Linked DNA regions of Homo sapiens: region 2 is linked to region 1. Evidence: fine-mapped expression QTL. Tissue or cell type: adrenal gland. Region 1 holds a variant in brackets; the other region holds the start of a gene. All regions are shown on one strand. Distances are between the middles of the regions.

Region 1 (11,096 bases):
TGAGCTCTTTATATATTCTGGATCCACATTTAGGATCAGATATCTGCATTAAGAATAATTTTCCCAGTATGTAGCTTGCTTTTTATCTCCATGGTATCTTTAGAAGAGCAGATGTTTTTAAAATTTCTTGAGGGTTTCTCCCCACTGTACCACTCCTGATGCTGGTGAAGGCTTGCAGTGACTCATAACCATCTTCCTCATGCCCCATAGGTGTACCATTTCCGGGATGCCTTCCCTGGCACACGGGTCAAATATCTTTCAAGACCCTCTCCCACATTTCACACAGCGGGCCTTCTGGGTGGATGAGCTGGGCTTGGGACTCACTGTGACTCTCCTTCCACAGAATTCCTCTGCTGAAGTGCCTCCTAAGCCTCTGTTTCATACCAACAACCAGAGAGTGGGCACATGGCTGAGCTGTAGCACAGGTGGAGAGGCTGACCTCCAACATACTCCTCTGCAAATGGGTTTTACCAGTGGTGGGGGTGCTGAACACAGTGCAGAGGTGGTGCCTAGACTCAGGAAAATCTGACTGCAACTGACAAGCTGGTGTCCAAGGACTGCTAAAGGCATATGTGCATACCTCCAGAGACATTCAGTGTAGGCCAGTGTTTGAGAGCACAGGAGTGGGTTCTGTCCCAGGCCCTTTCTCTGAGGCTGAAGCATGAGGTCTCCCTCGTATTCAACTTGGGCAACTACATGAGACTTAGAAGATGCAAGTCCCAGTGAGGCCATGGTGCAAAGTTCTCTAGCATCACATCATGGTATAGGAGTCTCTGACCATCACTGAGGAACCTTCCCTCCTCTTGGGAGAAATACATGGCCATGTCCTCAAAGTAAATGTTTTTACAGAGGTGGAATCCTCTTCTGAGTGCATCAACACGGTTGCTGCCATAGAAATCTATAGGCAGAGTGGGGAAGTGGGAGGCAAGAGACCAGAGTGGAGACTCAACGCTGTCATCTTCGCAGGGGCTCAGCAGCTGAGCCCTAGACCTGTGTAGGTGCCATGGGGATGATGCTTCCTTTTGTGCCTTCTCCCATTACCTTGGCTTCACTGAGAGTTCCAGAGCCTCTAATGTCAGTGCTGTTGTTTTTATAAATTGCTGGTTTCAATTGGTTGATATTTTGCTAGGGAATTTTGTGTCTATGTCCAAGAGGGAGAGTGAGCTATGGTTTTCTTCTTCTTCTTTTTTTTTTTTAATAATGTCTTTCTCTGATTTTATAACCATGGTAGCCTTGGTAACATTAAATAAATCTAGAAAGCATTGTCTCCTCTATTTTTTGAAAGAGTTTGTGTAGGGTGAATTCTACTTCTCTCTCTCTCTTTTTTTTTTTTTTTTTGAGATGGAGTCTTGCTCTGTCGCCCAGGCTGGAGTTCAGTGGCGAATCTCAGCTCACTGCAAGCTCCGCCTCCCGGGTTCAAGTGATTCTCCTGCCTCAGCCTCCTGAGTAGCTGGGATTACAGACATGCACCACCACACCTGGCTAATTTTTGTTTTCTTAGTACAGATGGGGTTCACCATGTTGGCCAGGCTGATCTCAAACTCTTGACCTCATGATCTGCCCTCCTCGGCCTCCCAAAGTGCTGGGATTACAGGTGTGAGCCATCGCGCCTGGCCCTCTATCTCTTTTTTTAAATGTTAGAGAGCATTCATCAGTGATGCTGTAGAGGTCTGGAATTTTCTTTTTTGAAAAGTTTTTAGATTACAAATACAATTTTTAAAAATAGACATTAGGCTATTCAAATGTTCTTTTGCTTGTTGAGTCAGTTTTGGAAATTTGTGTCTGTTAATGCATTGTTCCATTTCTTCTAAGCTATTGAATTTATTGATACAAAGTTATTTATAATATTCTATTATCTTTAATAGCTGTACTATCTATGATGATCTCCTTGCATCACTTTAAATTTCTGATATTGGAAAACATGTCTTCCTTCTTTTTTATCAGTCTAAATAGAATTTTATTAATTTTGTTTAATTTTTCAAATAACCAGCTGTTGTTTGTATTAGTTTTATCTGTCATGTGCTTTTTATTTCACTGATTACTTCTCTTATCTTTGTTATTCCATTTCTTTCTACTTTTCTAAAGCTTGATTTGCTCATTTCCTCTCAATCTTTAAGGAGGAAGCTTAGCTACTCGAATTTTCTTCCTCCTTAATATATGTATTTTATGCTACAATTTCCCTGTAAGCACTGGGTTACTTGCATTCCAGAAAGTTTGATATTTGTGTTTTTATTTTCATTTAGTTTAAATTTATGTGTGTATTGATTACTGATTGAGTGATTTTCCATATGAATATATAAATACACACACACACATACAAAGTGATTTCAGACTTAATTTAATTGTGGTTAAAGAACTCTCCCTCTGCCTTTCTTTTCCTTAGCTGTTTGGGAGACAGTATTAGTTTCAGAATAAATAGAGGCACGGATAGCAGAATTAGGGGAGAGGGTAAAACTCAGTGTGTGTGTGTTCGTGTGTGTGTGTAGAGAGAGAGTGAGAGGGAAAGCGTACATCTGTTGCATATATTACTGCAACCTTAGAAAGCATCAAGCACCCCATAGACTTGTGCTGGAGGTTTTCAGCTTACCTCCCTGCATGCACTCTGCCTTTCTTGAGTTTGTTTTGTTCCTGGGAGGCTGATTCATTTGTGCTGCATCAATAGGTTCCTTGTTCTCTGGTTTCTTTTAGAGTTGGACCATTGGAAGCACTGAGAAGAGGTCAGAGAGTGGTAGAAAGGCAAGGTCAAGTGCATTTTCTGGATCCCTCTCTGCCAGGATACCCTGAGCGAGTGCACATCTTCATCAAAGGTCATACTCCCATCAGCTGGCCCTTTCTCCAACCTCAAGTGCCCTCTGAGCTCCTCTGTGGGCTCCCTCTGCTTGTCCCTTGGGTCTAAGGGTGGCAATAGCCCTACAAGGTACAATAAACCCCTTGTTGGTTTTCATCGACCTTCACATAGTTTTGACGTAGCCCCTTCATTAAAACTCTCCTCAGTGATGCCCCTTGGATGTGCTCTTTTATATATATATATATATATATATATATATATGTTTTTTTTTTATTATACTTTAAGTTCTAGGGTACATGTGAACAACGTGCAGGTTCGTTACATATGGATACATGTGCCATGTTGGTGTGCTGCACCCATTAACTCGTCATTTACATTAGGTATATCTCCTAATGTTATCCCTCCCCACTCTCCCCACCCCACTACAGGCCCCGGTGTGTGATGTTCCCCTTCCTGTGTCCAAGTGTTCTCACTGTTCAGTTCCCACCTATGAGTGAGAACGTGCGGTGTTTGGTTTTTTGTCCTTGTGATAGTTTGCTGAGAATGATGGTTTCCAGCTCCATCCGTCTCTTTCATCCTCACATCTTGACTGACATTAGAGAGAAAGCCGCCCCTTTTCTGATGGTTACAGATAATTTGTTCTCAGCCTGGAGGCAGATGTTGGGAGAAGGAAAAAGCCTTTTTCCCTTTTTTTTCAGTCTTCTTGCAGGCAGAAATTCTGTATTGATGTATTATATTTTTCTTTCTATTATCACCAGTTTTTCAAATCCAACATGCCTCACTGTTAACTCCATTTCTCTCCAAAATAAAATAAAGTTACCTACACTTTTGTTAAAATGTTAATGTTTTCCCTGTGAGTAGGTTTCACCAGCCGAAGCCCCATTCATTTACACCTGAATTTCTGGAAGGATGGAAATCTCTCTCCTTCACTGGCTCATCAGTTACTCATTTATATTTCAGAATAAGGAGGTTTCAGACGGAAAATGATGTCTGGTGGTTATTTAAAGAGTAAGGGCTGCAACTAATTGGCTCTTTGGCACCAGCATCTTTTTCATGACAACATGGGGGCACTTGCTGTTATGACCCGCATCTATTTTACTGTATTGAATATGATGGTGGTTGTAAACGGAAACATGTTTCCCACTTCTGCTCTAAATAAAAGCATTGTAAAATGCTGTGGAATTCCCTCATCCAAAATATTTGTCTCATTAAGAGTTTTCTCACATCAGTTAATGACTTAATTAGCAAAACTCCTCAAATTAAAACCTTTATCAACATTAACTGTTGGCAGAGATAGAAAATTCTCATCCTTACCTCTCACCAAAGTTCATATAGTAACATGAGAAGAGCAATTTCCTATAAATGTTAAACAATAAATTTCTTAGGAACTTTCACTTCCACTTAAAGGGCAGCCAGGGGGCAGGAGGAGGAGGGGGTGAAAATATTGCTCACCAGTGACTAGACTCTCTAAATGCACTCCTGTTGACTGCCTACATGCCTGTTTACAATTCCTTTTTTTTTTTTTTTTTTTTTTTGAGATGGAGTCTCGTTCTGTCACCCAGGCTGGAGTGCAGTGGCGCGATCTTGGCTCACTGCAACCTCCAACTATCGGGTTCAAGCAGTTCTCCTGCCTCAGCCTCCTAAGTAGCTGGGATTACAGATGCACACCATCACGCCTGGCTAATTTTTGTATTTTTAATAGAGATGGGGTTTCACCATGTTGGCCAGGCTGGTCTCGAACTCCTGACTTCAGATGATCTGCCCACCTCGGCCTCCCAAAGTGCTGGGATTACAGGTGTGAGCCACCACGCCCAGTCTCTTGTCTACAATTAGTAAAGTGTAAAATCATATCATGTCTATTTGCAGCCCCATTATTTATTTAGAGATTTGTTCTCTTTAAAATATCCTAGTGCAAGTTGAGCAGTAAAATGCTCCTCAACTCCAGTCAAAAAGGCCTTGTGGGAGGGCAGGGAGTATATTGAGAACAGGGGCAAATTCAATAGTCCATCTCTCCCAAGTAAAATTTAAAAAATATATAAAATTGTGCAAAAAGAAACCACTATGCAGGCAAACAGGGATGACCTTCAAAATCTTTCATCACTGGTACTGCAAGACACTGTCAATCAGAACAGACATCAGCCACCAGCAGCTACTCCTAGACTAGTGCAGATTTGGTAAGACAAGCATCATCCATGACATACCAGGGTGTGTGTGTGTGTGCCAATATGTATGGCCTGTGTGATTTGAGAAAGGAATGGGATTCCTTTCTATGTTAAATGGAGTTAGCATAGACCAAGAGAAGAGAGGAAAGAGATGGAAAGGTGAGGGAGACGGCGTCCAGCCAAGTTTGGCTACAGGGCATTGCCACGCTTTGCTCATTACAATGATTTCCATATTTTTGATGCATTTAGCTTTTCATGGTGCTTTCATCCCATCTCATTTTATCCTTAAAGACAAATATAGCAATATTCTTACTTTATAGCTTAAGTAGTAGACTGGAAAGGTGAGATTATAAGGGTGTCTTAGTTCTCAAGTCAAATACCTTCTTCCTCTGTAAGAGG[T/C]CTTGGAAATAAACTTGTGTCCCAGATTCTGGATTGAGATATTCTTGCCCTTACACTATGTGAATTCAGTCTTCCATTCAAGGAATTGAAAGAGGCCCTGCTGCAATAAATTTGTCTTTGCTTCTTCTGCCAGCCCCTGTGAGCGCTATCCTTGGATCAGTCCTCACAGTCTGATTGCCCTGCTTCCTCTAGGTGTTGGCTCTGATCCTGACCTTGGCTCAGCTCAGTTTTAGATGATCCTCCCGAGGATGCAATCTTAGTCAGTACCTGTTTTTAGTACTATTGACATGCCTGTGTCAATCTTATTTGCTCAGTGATTCTTGCCTCTCAAAATGACTCAAGAAAAGCACCTTATTCTTCCTTTTATCATGGGCATGGTTACTTTTTTGTTTTTTGCCAGTTGGGAATGTGAAGCTTTGTGTAATTCATTTTTCTCAGATCTTTTCGTCTGAGAGTCAAAGCAGAGTCCCAGGCCGGGCGCGGTGGCTCACGCCTGTAATCCCAGCACTTTGGGAGGCCGAGGCGGGCAGATCACGAGGTCAGGAGATCAAGATCATCCTGGCTAACATGGTGAAACCCCGTCTCTACTAAAAATACAAAAAAAAAAATTAGCCGGGTGTGGTGGCGGGTGCCTGTAGTCCCAGCTACTTGGGAGGCTGAGGCAGGAGAATGGCGTGAACCCGGGAGACGGAGCTTGCAGTGAGCCGAGATCGCGCCACTGGACTCCAGCCTGGGCGACAGAGTGAGACTCTGTCTCAAAACAAACAAACAAACAAACAAACAAAACAGAGTCCCAATTACAGTTATAACCACCAAAAAGACTGCTTTCCTTTCAAAGACCTGCTCCTATTTGGATCTATTTGTAGGAGGCCTCAGAGGGTGTCTCACTTATGCTTCCATATGACATCCATTAATTTTTTTCCTCTCCTTTTCTATACTCTGCCCACCCCTGTTTTAATATGTCTACAACTGGGTACATCAATGATTATATACTTTGTGAGAATTGCCATGTCTGGTCAGCATCAAGGGTGCTATTATATATGTCAAAACACTCTCACCCCCACCCCAACTTCTTTCAAAGCTTCTTTTTACTATTTCTGTCTTAGAATACTCAGGCTGCTATTGCAACATGCTTTAGACTGGGTAAGATTGAGTAATTGCAAGCAATGAAATTTGTTTCTCATAGTTCTGGAGGCTAGGAAGTCCAAGATCAAAGTTATAGCAGATTTGGTGTCTAGTGAGGGTTCATTTCCTAGTTCCTAGATGGTGCTTTCTCTCTGTGTCTTCATGTGGAAGAAGGGGCAAACAAGCTCTCTCAGGCCTCTTTTATAAGGGCATTCATCCTATTAATGAGCACTCTATCCACATGATTTAAAAGTCCCCATCTCTTAAAACTATTGCATTGGGGATTAGGTTTCAATATATGAACTTGGGGGTGACACAAACATTCAGACCGTAGCAATTTTAATGACATTTGCTGCATCTTGCTACTACTAAATCTGTTTTTCCAGATGCCCGTTTTCAGGCTCTGACCTGTGACAGTCGCGTGCTCTGGATGTGTCCCTGCAGGGATGCAGTTATCAATGTGCTGAGGCACTCGAGGTGCTAGTGGCCGTATCCTATAAAGGCTCCATGGGGCCAGCTATTTTCTGGTATAACAGGAAAAATCTTCTTCCTCCACTGTCTTTTTTTTTTTTTTTTTTTTTTTTTTGAGATGGAGTCTTGCTCTGTCCCCCAGGCTGGAATGCAGTGGTGCCATCTAGGCTCACTGCAATCTCTGCCTCCCGGGTTCAAGCAATTGTCCTGCCTCAGCCTCCCAGGTAGCTGGGACTACAGGCATGAGCCACCACACCCAGCTAATTTTTTTTGTATTTTTAAATAAAGATGGGGTTTCACCATATTGGTCAGGCTGATCTCCAACTCCTGACCTCAAATGATCCACCTGCCTCGGCCTCCCAAAGTGCTGGGATTACAGGTGTGAGCCAGTGCACACCTGGCCCTTCCTCCACTTTTATGCTGATCTCTGTTAATTCTCTGGACTTCAGAAACTGGGAAGTTCTTGAATCATATATAATCAGAAAATCCACAATATGGGTTTAGAATCTTCAGAGCCTCAACAATGTTAGACTCACTTTTGCTCTTTCATTTTCTTCTTTCCTCCCTCACTCCCTCCCTCCTTGGTGTCAATATTTATCTCCACCCATTTCAAAGCCCCACATCTCTCTCTTTCTATTGCTTTCATTCCCACTTGCTATGAAGTTATTTCTTTCATGGGGAATGTGATGAGTTTGTTGAGAAATGGCCTGCCATTGACCCAGGCTCACATCATCCTAGCTTAGCAACCTTAGAGGAGGGATACTACTTTTTCTCTTTCAAAGTAATGTGGTTGCCACCATAGGTGGGACCGCTGTGACTCGAGTCCCCTGTGCCTCGAGTCCTGGGGCAGCCGACTGTGCCACCCCCACCCTCACGGAGCCAGGCTGGACCACTCCCAGGCCCGGAGCCTCCACTGCTCTAGACTGTGGCCCTACGTCACTGCTGTCACCCGCTGCGGCTGCAGGGAGAGCATGGGGAGGAGGTGGACAGTCCCCGGAGCCCCCCGTCCTGCGGGCCGCCGTGATGGGGCCGGGCTGAGTCTCCAGCTGGTGGGGGAGCAGAGCAGTCGGGTACGGAAGGGGCAGGCAGAGAGGGGCCCTGAGGGAGAGCTGGGCCTGGAGTGGTGCCACGCTTCCACGGGGAGTGTGGGGGCCGGCGGGGGGCGGAGCTGGGGCCATGCTTCAGGGGCCCGGGGTGGGAAGTGGGAGGGGCTCCCACTACAGGAACCAGGGAGCAGCCAGCCACCGTGCCCACAAACCAGTCATGCACCTTGGGAGAAAGCCCTGGCGGGGCCACCCAGGGCCACGTCCTCAGGGTCGGCCCCACATTGGGGTGACTGCCGAGCCTGAAGCTCCCGAAGGCCGGACTGGTGCTCATGATGGGCTCCCAGAGGCGCTCCCAGAGGCACACCCAGGCAGAGTTGCCAGCTGGGTGAGGAGGAACCTCAGGCCTCCCCTGAGCCCGGGGACACAGAAAGAACTCACAGCAACGTCATCCTTCCCCCAGTTGCCAGGCTCCCGCCCCAGGCTGCAAAGAGGTGTGGCGAGGTCACTCCAGGGAGCTGGCAGAGCAGGGGACAAGTGGGAGCCCTGCCCCTTTCTAGTTGGTGGGGTGGGAACTCCCTGGGTGCTGCTGCAGGTGCCCTGCCACGGCTCCAGACCCAGGCATCTCTGTGCTCTTCGGGGTCTGGGAAGACCCCCTGCCTTCCACAGGCTCAGAAGTGGCTGCTCCCATGGCCTGGCCCAGCTGTTGGTGCCTCTCCCAATCTCTGAGCAAAGTTGGGGGATGAGCCTGCACACTTTTGCAGCCCAGCTGCGTTCACACACTCGGGGCAGCACTGACATGCAAGCCCCCTGCCACCTCAGCCCCTGTGGACTTCGGGCACCAATAAGCACGGGAGGGAGGCAAAGGGGGCCCTGGGGACAGCCCCACACTGGCCTTCAGGCGCCCCTTAGCATGAACAGCCTGGATGCCATGAACAGCCTGGGTGCTGTGAACCATAGTGGAGGCAGACAGGCTCCTGGGCAGAATGGGCTGGTCTCCAGAGAGGCCCCACCTTCAAGCAGGGAGGACCTGAAGCCTGGGAGCCAGGCCATCAGTCTGGTGGACCAGAGGGGGATCTTATGGTGCTTTTCCCTGTGCCCACCCATGGCTGCCCATGGACAAATCAGCATGCACTTCCTCCCCTCTGAGGCCCATAAAATCCTCCAGACTCAGCCAGACTCAAGCAGAGGATGGGGAGACAATGGGGAGATGACTAGAGGACCAGCTGCAGAGATGAGCTACCCTTTCTCCTGAGAGTTGAACACTTGTTGGGACACCCTGGCTAGGGAGAGAAGCTGCCCACTGCCAGTCTCCTCAGAGCTGTTTCATTGCTCAATATAGCTCCTCTTCATTTTGCTCACCCTCCACTTGTTTGTATACCTTATTCTTTCTGGTCAAGGGACAAGAACTTGGGACTTGCCAAATGAGGCTAAAAGAGCTGTAACACAAACAGGGCTGAAACATGCCCCTTACTTGCTATGTTGCAGGTGAAGAGAAGGAGAGAAAAGATGCAGCCCTTCAGGGATCCCAGCCCTGGAGGCTCCCAAAGCCAGGTCTGTGACTCCCTCTTTGGGGCCCTGTGGTTCCTGATGTCTCCAGGCTTCCGGGCACCACTGCATTCCCTGGTGCCAGCCAGGGAAGCTGCTTGTGGTGCACCTGGTCCAGCTGCAGTCTCACAGAGAGTGGGCACCCATCCCAGCACCTGGAGCTGCCTGTGCCATGGCAGCAGCTGTCGTGTCTGACTGTGTGCAGTGGCTGGACCCCACACTCGTTCACACACCCCTTGCTGTTCCATGCCTGACTCCCACTCAGAGTCGTGGGGTCCAGGCTGGTGGCGTGAGCCGAGCGTGGCCTGCCAGGCCAAGTGAGTGGAACAAGCTCAGTGGGCCCGAGCAACACTCAGGGAAAGGTGCCACCAGCCACAGAGGTTTCTGGCCAGAAAAGCAACACCCCAAAGATCCTGTAACGATATGTAAAATCTTATCAAAGATACTGTTTGATACAGTTTGGGTCAGGTGCTTTTGCTTGCATCAATCGTGGTGGCCCGAGGATAAGATATTGAAATGGAGAGTACCATTAAAGCCTCACAAAAGAGAGGGTAAGAAAAATTCCACAAAGAAGGAAAGGTACTGCTATCGGAATATGAACGTAAGGGATGCTGGGCAGAAAAAAGCAATAAATGCTCGGTTAAAAAAATAAATATCTTACAGAGCTTTTGGTGAGAAAAATTGTAAGTTTTTATTTGCTGCTCATCTCTCTCTAGAACTCAGAGATGAATCCATGGAGGTAGGTCAAAAGAACAGTTTGGTCGCTGACTCTACTGAGTCTCCTGTCCCATACTGTGACCAAGGCTCTAATATTAGACATAGCTGTGTACCAACTCTTTTCCTGGATGTATTCTTTCTCAGGAGACTCTTTCATCTTCCACTCTATAAACCCATGGTAGCCATCCCAACACAGCCCTATAAACAAACATGCTCAATCTGTCTAAATCCTAAAATGAGTACTTCTTAGGACAGTGGAAGATGTGTAATATCTTGCTTTTTCCATAATTATAATGGGAAGAATTATAATATCTATCAATGTCTAGGGTTCCTTTTATTATTAATTACTCAGAGCTTTTGTAAAGTGTTTCAAGGTCATTTCAAATGAGGATGATGTAAGTAGGAAATATCTAATTACTATATATCATATTATTTTTGTCCTGTTAAAGAAATTTATGAATGTCTCAATATTTTGTATAATGCCGCATTTTATTAAAATGCCATGAAAAGAAACATTCTCTCTTTAAATCAAGAGGAATAAAGAGAACAATTATATTTCTGGGATTATTTCTATATAGTGCTTACTGAAAGAAAACACATGGAACAGAGGACATTTAGAGATTCTTCCCCTCATTATACGAAGCCCTAAATTTATCTTGCCACACTGAAACATTTTATTTGGATCGTCCCATTTCTTTCTAAATCTTTCATTATCAAATTTTGAGCAAAAAGAAAAATTATCTGTACATAGCCTATGTAAAATCACAATCATAGCATGCTTTTACATAGCTCAGTAAGGAAAGTATTCAGTGTTGATAATTTAGTTTTTAATTCTTATTTTGG
Region 2 (11,096 bases), 100 kb after region 1:
TCAGAGGCATCTCAGGGTGACTTTTTGCTTCACTTGGTTCATTCTTTCCCTCCTCCTCCCCTTGACCTTATAGATGCTGGAACCATAACATCTCAGACTTGGAAAGAACCTTAAATGACATCGGCTGAATGCTCTTCATTCTACCTCTCTAATTTGTCATTGTTTGCCTTCGGCTTGAACACTCATGAAAGGGAGCTCACTGTTTCTAGAAGCAGCTCATTCCATTGACAGTCAACTCAAATGAATAGAATGTTCTCTCGTACAGTGAATTTTAAATGTTACATTCTGTATCTTCCACCCATTAATCTTAGCACTGCCCTTTGAAGACATACAAAATAAACTCACATTTTTTTTTCCATGTGTAGCTACCAGATCCTCCTAAGTTTTCTCTTCTCAGGGAAAGCACCTGGAATCCTTCAGCCACTTCTCTAAGCAGAATTTCCAGACCCATCACCAGCCATGTGCCTCGCATCTGCGTCTGTGCCAGGTCTTTCAGGTTCTTTGTACTGTGCCCCACCTGAACCACCCAGCACTCTCTGGAAGTGGTGGCTGTCTGCTTCTTCAAGGGCCCCATGTCACAGATAGAGCCTGGGAGCTCATCAGCTGGTGGGAGAGCTTCAGCTTGCTATTAATGCATGTGGCCCCTCTGTCCATCCGAATGCTAACTTTTTTCTTTTTTTAGGATTGCCATAAAATACACATAACATAAAATTTAGCATTTTAACCATTTTTAAGTGTACAATTCAGTGGCATTAAGGACATCCACATTGTTACGCAATCACAACCACCATTTATCTTCAGAATTTTTTCATTTTGAACAATTGAAATTCCATACCCATTAAACAATCAATCCCCCTTCTCTCTTCTTCCAGCCCCTGGCAACCACCATTTCGCTTTCTGTTTCTGTGAATTTCACTACTCTAGGTACACATACCAGTGGAATCATATAGTATTTGTCTTTTTGTGAATGACTTATTTCACTTAGCATAATGTCCTCAAGGTTCATCAAATGTAGAGCAGGTGTCAGAGTTTCTCTCCTTCTTAAGACTGAATACTATATGGCTGTATGTATGTATCATAATTTTTATCCGTTTATCTGCGGATGGACACTTGGGTTGCTTCCACCTTTCAGTTACGGTGAATCATGCTGCTATGAACATGAGTATACAAATATCTGTTCAAGTCCCTGCTTCCAATTATTTTGGGTACATACCCAGAGGTGGAATTGCAAATGCTAACTTTTTGTACTTGTTGCTGATTGACTGGATTTTCCCAACCCTGTATTTGTAAATTTCACTTTTTGATCCCAAGTTCCTATAGAACCACTGTCTCTACAAATTATTCTCATCATCTCAACCTGTTGAGGTCATGAAGCCCATTGATGCCCAAGTATCATACAACACAGTAGTGATCATTTACATCATTAGCTCTACATCAGATTAACTTGCAAGGCTCTGTGCCAAGCCCAGAGTTTGTTTCTCAGAAAGCATGGTCACCAGTCCACAAATTATGTCAGTTAGAGGGGACACTGATGCAGGAAGCAGAAAGAAGCCATGGCCTCTTCCCCCACTCTCTTTACTCCCCCACTCCTACTCCCCTTGATCCCCTCTTTTGTATCTCTGCACTCTTCTCTGAGTTTTCTTCCATATTCCCATTCTCTTCTAAAACATGCTTGGGGATAGCGTGTGGCATGCTAGGTGGGGGTGAGTCAGCAGAAATGTCAGCTTGTATGGTCCCTTTAATCCGTGTTGGGAGGTCCAGAGAGAAGTAGCTAGTCAGCAGTGAGTTACACACAGATCATGTGGAGTAAAGATTTCAAACTTTAGAAGAAAAAATTCTAACATTTCCGAGATTGCTAACTTCTTTGAAGACAGGAGCATCTGTCTAGAGCAGTGGCCCAGGACGAGGAAGGAAGGCAGCCAACCTGTGTTATCAGGATTCCCATCAACTCAGACAGCCAGAACCTCAGAAGTCTTTGCATTTCCCAGCCCCATATCCAGGCTCCACTCAACGTACCTCGTCCTGCAGGATGAGATCTATGCCCCCATCAGACCACTTCCATGATATTTCCAGTTTCTACTTGTAGTCTGAGGATAATATGATTTAAAAATATTTGGTATCCTTGGCCTAGTTGTGATGTAGAGCTGGGGCAGAGTCTCAGCCAGAGAAGTGAACTATGGAGAAAATGGCAAATTTGTCTGAAGAAAACTTCTAATAATAATTTTTAAAATTCAATGTAGTCAAGATGCATGTTGTTCCAGTTATCTATTATTGTATAACAAGCTAGCCAAAAACTCGATGGCTTAAGACAGCCATCTGATGATATCTCAGGATTCAGGCAGAACTCAGCTGGGAGTTCTGTTCCTGGGTAGATAGACAGAGGTAAGACACCCAGTGGTATTCAGCAGGTGGATGCCCTGGTTTGAGAGTTGAAGATGGCTACACTCATCTATCTGGTGTCTTGGCGAGAATGATAAGGAAGCTGGGCTCACTGGGCTGTCCCTTGAAACACCTACATGTGGCCTCTCCAGCATGACAGCCTCAAGTTAATCAGACATCTTATGTGATGGCTCAGGGCTCCAAGAGGGGATTGTTCCAGTGAACAAAGTTGGAGGCTGCTGGTCTTTTATCATCTAACCTTGGAAATTACCTAGTATCATCTCTTATGTACTCTGTCAGTTGAAGTAGTCACAAGTTTCAAGGATAGGGGACAGAAACCCTACCCTTTGGTGAGGGACTGTCAAAGAATTTGCAACCATATTTCAAAGCTGCCATATACATGTTGGGGGAACCAGCCCCACACCAACCGGCGGGTACCCCGAGTCCAGCGGAGACACAGGAGTTAGAAAGAGGCAGAATAAGCATTTAAAAGGTGGGTCCAGGGGACCGTTGTGTAGGAGGCTTGCTCATGGCCCAGAGCTCTTGGGCTCCAACTAATTTATTGTTTTACAAGCTCTTTGTTCTTAGGGCAGATGGGAGGGGGAGGAAGGGATGAGGAAAAGGATTAATCAGTGAAGGAGAACTTGTGAGTCATTCAATAAGATGTACAGCAGTGGTGGTCTCTGTGAATTTCCTTGAGCAAAGGCGTGTGTCTAAACTACTTAAGATTGCGTGTGTCTAAACTACTTAAGATCTTTAACTTATTGGGACTGAAAGGGGTGGGAGCGGGTTTCAGGAGGAGCCAAGATGTTTGATTATACTCCACTGCTTCCAGGGCGTGTTATCTCCCTGAGCAGCCTGTGGAATGCCCCCGAGCAGTTATGCTCTCAGGGCATAAAGACATGAAGGCAATAAGGAGACTTTTCTCCTCAGAGGTCACCCATGGCTCCCCATGGGTGTCTCACACAGGGGAGAACAACTCAACTGGCACTCCAGAAACTCTTTTTCCCACAATACATGTATGTATATTTGAGTGTGATGATATAACCACACCTGCACCTGCAGTTCATCACAAGTACCCCACACAATCTGGCATTCAAAGGGTTGTATGTCTTGGGAAGAGGAACTCACATCCTGTTGGGGAATCACAGGTTTCATGAGTGAGCCAGGTCCTGAAGGATATAAACTGTGTTACAGATGGAGATGGAGGAGGAACTGTCCAAGCAGAAGGAATCAGGTGAGCAGAGACATAGGGAGAAAAATGATCATGACAGGCAGGAGGAGAATTCTGAGGGTCTGCTACGGCCGGGGGTAGCCTCATGAATGAAGAGGTCTCTGAACAGGGCAAATAGGCAAAGATCAAGGATAGGATAGGGCAAGCAAGGGTTACAGAGCAGGACAGGGAAGGACATTGTAGGATGGAGACTTGAGGGAGAAGGAGGAATTCAAGTTCTAAAAGAGTAGGGCACTTGCTGATGGGGAAGGGTTCCCAGAGGCGGAAGGACTGAGAGTGGTAAGTGCTTCCTTTCACCTTGAAAATAAGGAGGTACATTTTTTCCTTAGGGGTAAGAGCAAAGGGAAGAAATGGATTACCGATGAGTAAATTTTGAAGTACAGAGAAGTAAAGTGGAGGGCTGGCTTCAATCTTTTGAGTAACGTAGGAGGTAAGGCTATTGACTAAAAGTGAAAAATCACTGATATATATGTTAGACATTTGCACAAGTTTCTATGAAAATACAAAATATGACTTGTTTAGAGAACTTCAGTAAAGTAGGCAAATGTTCAGCTAGGTGTTGGAATGATTAATTGTACAATTCAGTTTTGTGTATTTTAAATGTTTTTCCTGATTACAAAAATAATATATATCCACTGTAGAAAATTTGAAAAATATTAAAAGGTACAAGAAAGGAAAGTCATCTATATACTCTACTATTACCCAAAGACAACTGCAAGGAGATAGTTTTATTCCTATGCAGTTGATTAATAATGCAGATGTCATTTTATTTTGTAACAAAATACAAATATTTTACATATTTGAGATTCTACACAGTTTTGCTTCAATAGTCTTTAGACACAACTTTAATGTGTTTAATGTCTATATGGTGTCCATGCTGTAGAGATGCCATAACTTATTTAACCATTCTCTATTTTGGAATATTTAGATTGTTCTGAGTCTTCATTATTTCATCTATACCGTGTGTGTGTGTGTGTGTGTGTGTGTGTCCCACATGTGTATGCACTATATTATACAACTACATGTATGTATATATAGATACCGTCTATGACCAGTCTTTGTAAGTAAGTGCCTCTCTGATTGTTTTTTCTTAGGACATATCACTGAATCAGAACAAATAAACCCTTTCAAGGTTCTTGAGACGTGTCGCTAAATTGCCTTTCCAGAAAGGGTGTACCAATTTTTATTTTCATCCACAAGCAGGCGGCTCGCTGACCCTCGCCCACATTTTTGTCACTTTAAAAAGAAGTGACAGTTGGGAAAGCTCAGTTTCTTCTGGCAGTTGACACATTTGGGATGTTTTTTCACCAAAAAACCTAAGGTCATGTTTTAGAAAATTCGAACTCAGAAATAGGACTTCTCTGAGACTCTCCTTTTCCCTCAAGTCCTTTTTGTGAGGGGGATGGGTGGGAGAGAGGAGACTGATTCAAGGAGCCTTCCAACTCTGATGTTCTGGTATTTTCACCGTCATTACTGGCACCAGATTGCTCAATCCTTCGACCAATAAGACAAAGAAGGAAAGTACTTCAGCGCTTGCTGTTTTGTAATACTGGCTTTGATTGGGAGAAAATAAGTGGGAAACAAGAGTAGCTTGGACAGGGGGCTTGGACGGCCAGCGCATTGACCAGAAGCGGCCCACACTACACGCGCGCGAACACACACACACACACACGCACACGCCGCGCGCGGTCAGCTAGAGTTTGGCTACTGGACCCAGGAAGGGAGGGAGCGGGAGGAGCTGGTGGCTGTCGGGTCGGGGTCTGGGCGCCACCGAGCGCCCGCCCCACCTCTGGAGTGCGCAGAAGGCGGTGCGTCCCGGGCCCCGGCAGCCCAGCCCAGGCGCTCTGGCCAAGTTTGCGCGCGGTCTCCGCTGACTCTCGGGTTACCTGAGCCGGCAACCACGTCAGCGCCACATCATCTGGGCTTTTTATATTGCAAGGAAACAGGAAAAGAAGGAAGAAAAACATCGCCCGAGAGAGCCAATCGCAGGAAGACGGCGCTGCCCGGAGGAGCGGGGCGGGCGGGCGCGCGGGGGAGCGGGCGGCGGGCGGGAGCCAGGCCCGGGCGGGGGCGGGGGCGGCGGGGCCAGAAGAGGCGGCGGGCCGCGCTCCGGCCGGTCTGCGGCGTTGGCCTTGGCGGCGGCGGTGGAGAAGATGCTGCAGTCCCTGGCCGGCAGCTCGTGCGTGCGCCTGGTGGAGCGGCACCGCTCGGCCTGGTGCTTCGGCTTCCTGGTGCTGGGCTACTTGCTCTACCTGGTCTTCGGCGCAGTGGTCTTCTCCTCGGTGGAGCTGCCCTATGAGGACCTGCTGCGCCAGGAGCTGCGCAAGCTGAAGCGACGCTTCTTGGAGGAGCACGAGTGCCTGTCTGAGCAGCAGCTGGAGCAGTTCCTGGGCCGGGTGCTGGAGGCCAGCAACTACGGCGTGTCGGTGCTCAGCAACGCCTCGGGCAACTGGAACTGGGACTTCACCTCCGCGCTCTTCTTCGCCAGCACCGTGCTCTCCACCACAGGTAGGGTATCCTGCGCGCCCCCTGGCCGCCCCGGCCACCTCGCCCACAACCCACACACCCCGGCCCCGGCGCCCCGGGCCCCTCTAACCCTCCCACCCCACCCCCCACCTTTCGCCATCCCGGCTCCTCCAGCCCGCCTCCCCTCACTGTCCTCCCGACCCTCCGACCTTCCCCTTACTGGCGTCCCCGGCCTCTGCCTGGGTGACTCGGGAGGGCAAGCCCTGCGGAGCCGGAAGCCAGAGAGGTGACTCCAGACGTGACTTGGTTGTTGCCGTCCGTAACTCTGGGGAAGTGGTCCCTAACTTCGGCCTGGGTGGCTGCAGGTGCTTCCTCCCCTTGAGTTCTTTTTTCGCAACCCACTAAGCCAAACTGTCGGGTTTGAATGTGTAGCAGCACCTGGCCGCCGTGCGGCAAGGCAGCGGGATGATGGAAACTCACCACCTTCCTCCCGCACCCATCCCAGAGGCCGAGGCTGCAGTCTGGTAATAATACCTTCTAAAGGGTCACCTTCCGGAGTGTGCCGTCCCTTTGGACCATGCACAGATATTCCAGCTCTTTTGTACCTTGGAGGCAGTTTTGGGGGTAGCCGAGTGACATCACTCTGCTCTTCCCAGGTGACCTCTGGGCGGACAGGCCGATCCGGTTTCTTTTCAGAGTAGGAGGAAGGGTGAGGGAGAGTAAAGGAACCATAGGATTGCCTAAGATCTGACTTAATTGGGGCACCCTGATTCAGCAGTTCCTTCAACTTGAGGTGTGCGAGGCTCCCCATAAACTTCGAAGCGCCACGTCCCCGTACGACTCACCCGCGGGGCGCCCGGCCATGGAGGAGCCTCCTCAGGTGAAAGATGAGGCCGGGCGCATGCCCCAGGGCTCGGTCACTGTGCCAGATCAGATGAATGAAGGCCGAATTTCCCCAGCCGGACCTAGTAAGGCACATACCCAGAGTGGAGATATCAATTGGTATTTGGACAGTGGGAGGAATCTGAAAGAGCGTTCAGCACAGTCCCTTCTTTTGATCTATGAGATCCAATCTTTGAAATAATCCATCTCGTCATGCACAAGGTCACACACTTCCTAGTTACCAGTGTCGTCCTGGAACCTGGGCCTTGTGATTTCTCTGCCAGGACCACTTTGTAACCCCCCACCCTCAACCTTTACAGGTGAATCACATCCCTTTGTGTGACTCCCAACTCTTCCTTCCTCCCCACCCCCCTCCACCACCCAAATTATTGTGTATAATTCCCTTTGGGCTATATCTTGTTGACTATCTTGGTAATTACTTGGTAATGAGTAATAATACACTATTCATGTAGATCACATGAAACAATTATTCAGAGGTCTGGGGTGAATTACTAAACTGATGTAAATCTACCCTGAAATAAACAGAAGTGGAATTCTAGCTTGTATTGTGAGATCTAAAAAACTGTTAAATGTAGCGCTAGACAAGACAGACCTGTTATCTCACTTTCCAAAGAATGCCTGTTCCCTTGCCAATACAATTTAATTTTTCTTTCCATAACTCTGCCTCCATTGTCTTTACCTAGTCCTCTGTTCCTCAGATCATTTAGGAGTCACCATGCCTTTCCTTTGGAGTATATTTGTGCTATATTGAGAGTCATTCATTCTTCCCAGAAGTAAGTGTTTCCATGGGGCTACAGAAAGTTTACAACTGGGTCACAATGTTGGGTAAACATTTCGAAGGATGCTTATAGCGTGTGGTGTTTTCTTACTAATGATATTGTGAGGATAGAACAAGAATAAGAACAGTTTTGAGGAAAAAGGTTTGCTTTTATCTGGGTGGGATTTTTCGTGACTCATGTATAGTCTTAACATCATATTGTCTAATTAAATGTTAAAAATTAGTTTATAATCTTGAATAGATGAAATATTCTTCCCAGAGGAGAATTAGAAAAAGGGATAGTTTCTGTTTAAGAAAGGGGTGGGGTGGGAATAGACGTCTTATTATTGGTATTCAGATTGCTTTGTAGTTCCTAAGAAAGTCTGTATTCATGCAAAACAAGTGTTCATTTAAGAAATCAGTGCAAGGGGCACTTAAGGATAAACTAAATGAAAAAGGTGCCTCTTGGTTTGTAAAGTTAGCACATCAATGAATTCTTGTTATATGAATACAACTATTCTAAATGAAAAGTACTCTTCTGTTGGCTTTGTACTGCCCCATTATTTGACACATTTGATATTTCTTAAGGTTTCAAAATTATAATTACCCATTATTTGATTCATTTGATGTTTTTTAAAGTCTTCAAATTATCATAGGTGCCCTGGCCATGAATCTTATAATGGGTGAGAAATCTTTTCTTCCCTACAAGGGGAAATAAAGAGATGTTAAATTGTGTGCTGGAAACAAACAATATTTTAAATCACTTGCTGGAAGCAGACAATTTTTTAGAGTAAAGCTGATGTGCTTCATTACTAGGAAAATATTTTCTGGAAAAGCGCCAACCAAATAAAATGAGTTGCAATCGCTTTTCGTTTTTTGGGTGGATATTAGACATGTTGTGCTTTTTTTTTTTCTTTTCTTAACACTTCTAGTCCTTTTGAAGGCAAATCACTGAGATAATTGTTACCTAATTAATCAGTACAGTCAATCCTTGACTTATTCAGAATGCTAACAATGAGCATTACAAAGATGCTGTTATTGGTAGTCATTGTTGTAACACAGGCCCATGAGTGCTTTTATGTCAGAATCTTCTCACCCCAGAATGTACAAACTTCCGTTTCTGGAAGGAACTGAGTAAAGTCTTCATGGTCTACTTGGAAGAAGGCTTAGGTTGGTAATTCAGCAATAGTCTTCTCATTCTGTGCTTTGCCAAAGACTCTGAATTATTTCCAGCAAACAATTTAACATCTCTTTATTTCCCTTTGTAGGAAAGAAAAGATTTCTCACCCATCATAAGGTTCATGGCCGGGGAACTTATAATAAAATGCAAATTAACAAGATAAAAGCACACACATTTAGTTAATATAAGTTTTAGATGACATAGACGCCTTTAGAAATGAAGACCCCAAGAAACAGGGAAGTTTATGTATTTTTAGGACAGTTGTGTAGACGAATGATTGGAGAACAAAAGGATATGATCTGACTGAGCACGGTGGCTCACACAGGTACTCCCAGCATTTTGGGAGGCCAGGGTGGAAGGATTGCTGGAGCTCAGGAGTTCAAGACTGCAGTGAGCTATGATTGCACCATTGCACTCTAGCCTAGGCAACAGAGTGAGACCTCATCTCTACTAAAAGTTAACAAAATTAGCCCGGAGTGATGGCGTGTGCCTGTAGTCCCAGCTACCTAGAAGGCTGAGGCATTGAGTCTAGGAGTTTGAGGCTGCAGTGAGCTGTGATTGAGCCACTGTGTTCCAGCCTGGACAACAGAGCAAGACTCTGTCTTGGAGGGGGAAAAAAAAAGAACAAAGAGGATATGATCTAAAAAGCTAAATAACTGGAGGAATTTAGCAAGGCCTATTTGTTCAGATTTTTCTTGGAATCTCTGTGTCTTCAAAGATAGAGCATTCCTTTTCTCAGGATATAGGATGGGCTCCCTTGTAATGAGGGTCTTCTTCAAAGGAAGGGCAGAGCTTCAGGGAAGAAGGTTAAGAGGAAGGCGAGAATGATCTTCCTGCTTCTGCTGTTTTCTCAAATGCTAAGGTGCCCTGTTTGGGGGTCGCATGCCCTGAACTCCATCACCCTTCATTCTAAAAGATACGGCAACATCTGCATAGGAATCTTATGAGAATGAGTGAAACACTGCAATACAGTTTTGAGCTTTTCAGAAAGAAGAGTTGTATACAAAAAAAAAGGAGGTATTATAGACTGCAGAATTTCCCACAGAACTTCTATACTGTGTTTTTTTTTTTTCCCCAAGGATTGAGGAAATAATGTCCAGGTGATATTTGGGGAGTAAGAAATAATTATTAAACTTTGGTAGCCATCTAAAACTTTGGACAGTGTCGTTCATTCTTAAGAACAATTTGTGATGTTGATTTACTAAAGTTTACTTCTTTATTCATTCCCCAAAGCAAGGCCATGTTATGATGACAACTGTTGGGTAAAAATACAGTTTTTGCCCAGGCGCGGTGGCTCACGCCTGTAATCCCAGCACTTTGGGAGGCCGAGGCAGGCAGATCACGAGGTCAAGAGATCAAGACCATCCTGGCCAACATGGTGAAACCCCATCTCTATTAAAAATGCAAAAAATAGCTTGGTGTGTTCGCATGCACCTGTAGTTCCAGCTACTCAGGAGGCTGAGGTGGGAGAATGGCTTGAACCCGGGAGGCGGAGGTTGCAGTGAGCCAAGATTGCACCACTGTACTCCAGCCTGGCGACAGAGCAAGACTCCATCTCAAAAAAACAAAGAAACATAAAAACAAAACAAAACAAAAAATAATTTTTGTATTCATGCAGTATACAAACTTTTAGTACCTTTTGCTGCTTTGTAAATGTGGGATCCATGTGACAGCTCAGTTCCTGTTCCTTTTTGTTTATTTTTATTTTTTGGAGATAGGGTCTCGCTCTCTCACTCAGTCTGGAGTGCAGTGACACTATCGTGGGTCACTTCAGCCTCTAACTCCTGGGCTTAGTTGATCCTCCCACTTCAGCCTCCTGAGGAGCTGGGACTACAGGCGCACACCACCGCACCTGGCCAATTTTTTTTTCATTTTTCTTTGGAGAGCGTGGTCTTGCTTTGTTGCCTGGGTTGGTCTCAAACTTGTTGCCTTAAGCTGTCTCCCACCTCAGCCTCTCAAAGTGCTGGGATTACAGGCATGAGCCACCATGCCTGGCCCCTGTTCCTGCCATTGGTAACCCTGGTGCCTTTAGCCAGGATGCTGCTTTATCCCTATTTATGAAGAGATGCATTGAAACTCTAGTTAAAGTGTTCAGTAAGTGAACTTAATTGGGCTTGGTGTACAGTGGCTTTTGATTAAGGCAGGTAGGGAGCTGCTACAACATAGGTAGTTTTCAA

Which allele goes with the higher level. Positions count from the first base shown, and alleles are read on the strand shown. Sizes are in standard deviations (SD) of each study's normalised expression.
As copies of T replace C in region 1, the expression in adrenal gland of the gene that starts at base 5,701 in region 2 goes up (small effect, 0.28 SD a copy in GTEx).

The links. PIP is the estimated chance that this variant, and not a neighbour inherited with it, causes the effect.
Region 2: it holds the start of KCNK1, and the variant in region 1 is fine-mapped to the expression of KCNK1 in adrenal gland (GTEx, PIP above 0.99).

The regions. Positions count from the first base shown.
Region 1 is chr1:233,507,142-233,518,237 of GRCh38, forward strand. No RefSeq gene overlaps it. Among named protein-coding and RNA genes, the nearest start is that of KCNK1, 100 kb to the right of the region's middle. The variant T/C (reference allele first, on the strand shown) is at 5,350.
Region 2 is chr1:233,608,406-233,619,501 of GRCh38, forward strand. KCNK1 (potassium two pore domain channel subfamily K member 1) reads left to right here and starts at 5,701. Exons shown (of 3, transcript NM_002245.4): 1 at 5,701-6,121. The coding sequence starts at 5,767. RefSeq lists enhancers at 4,827-5,479, 6,668-6,727 and silencers at 5,268-5,367, 5,728-5,797, 6,138-6,197.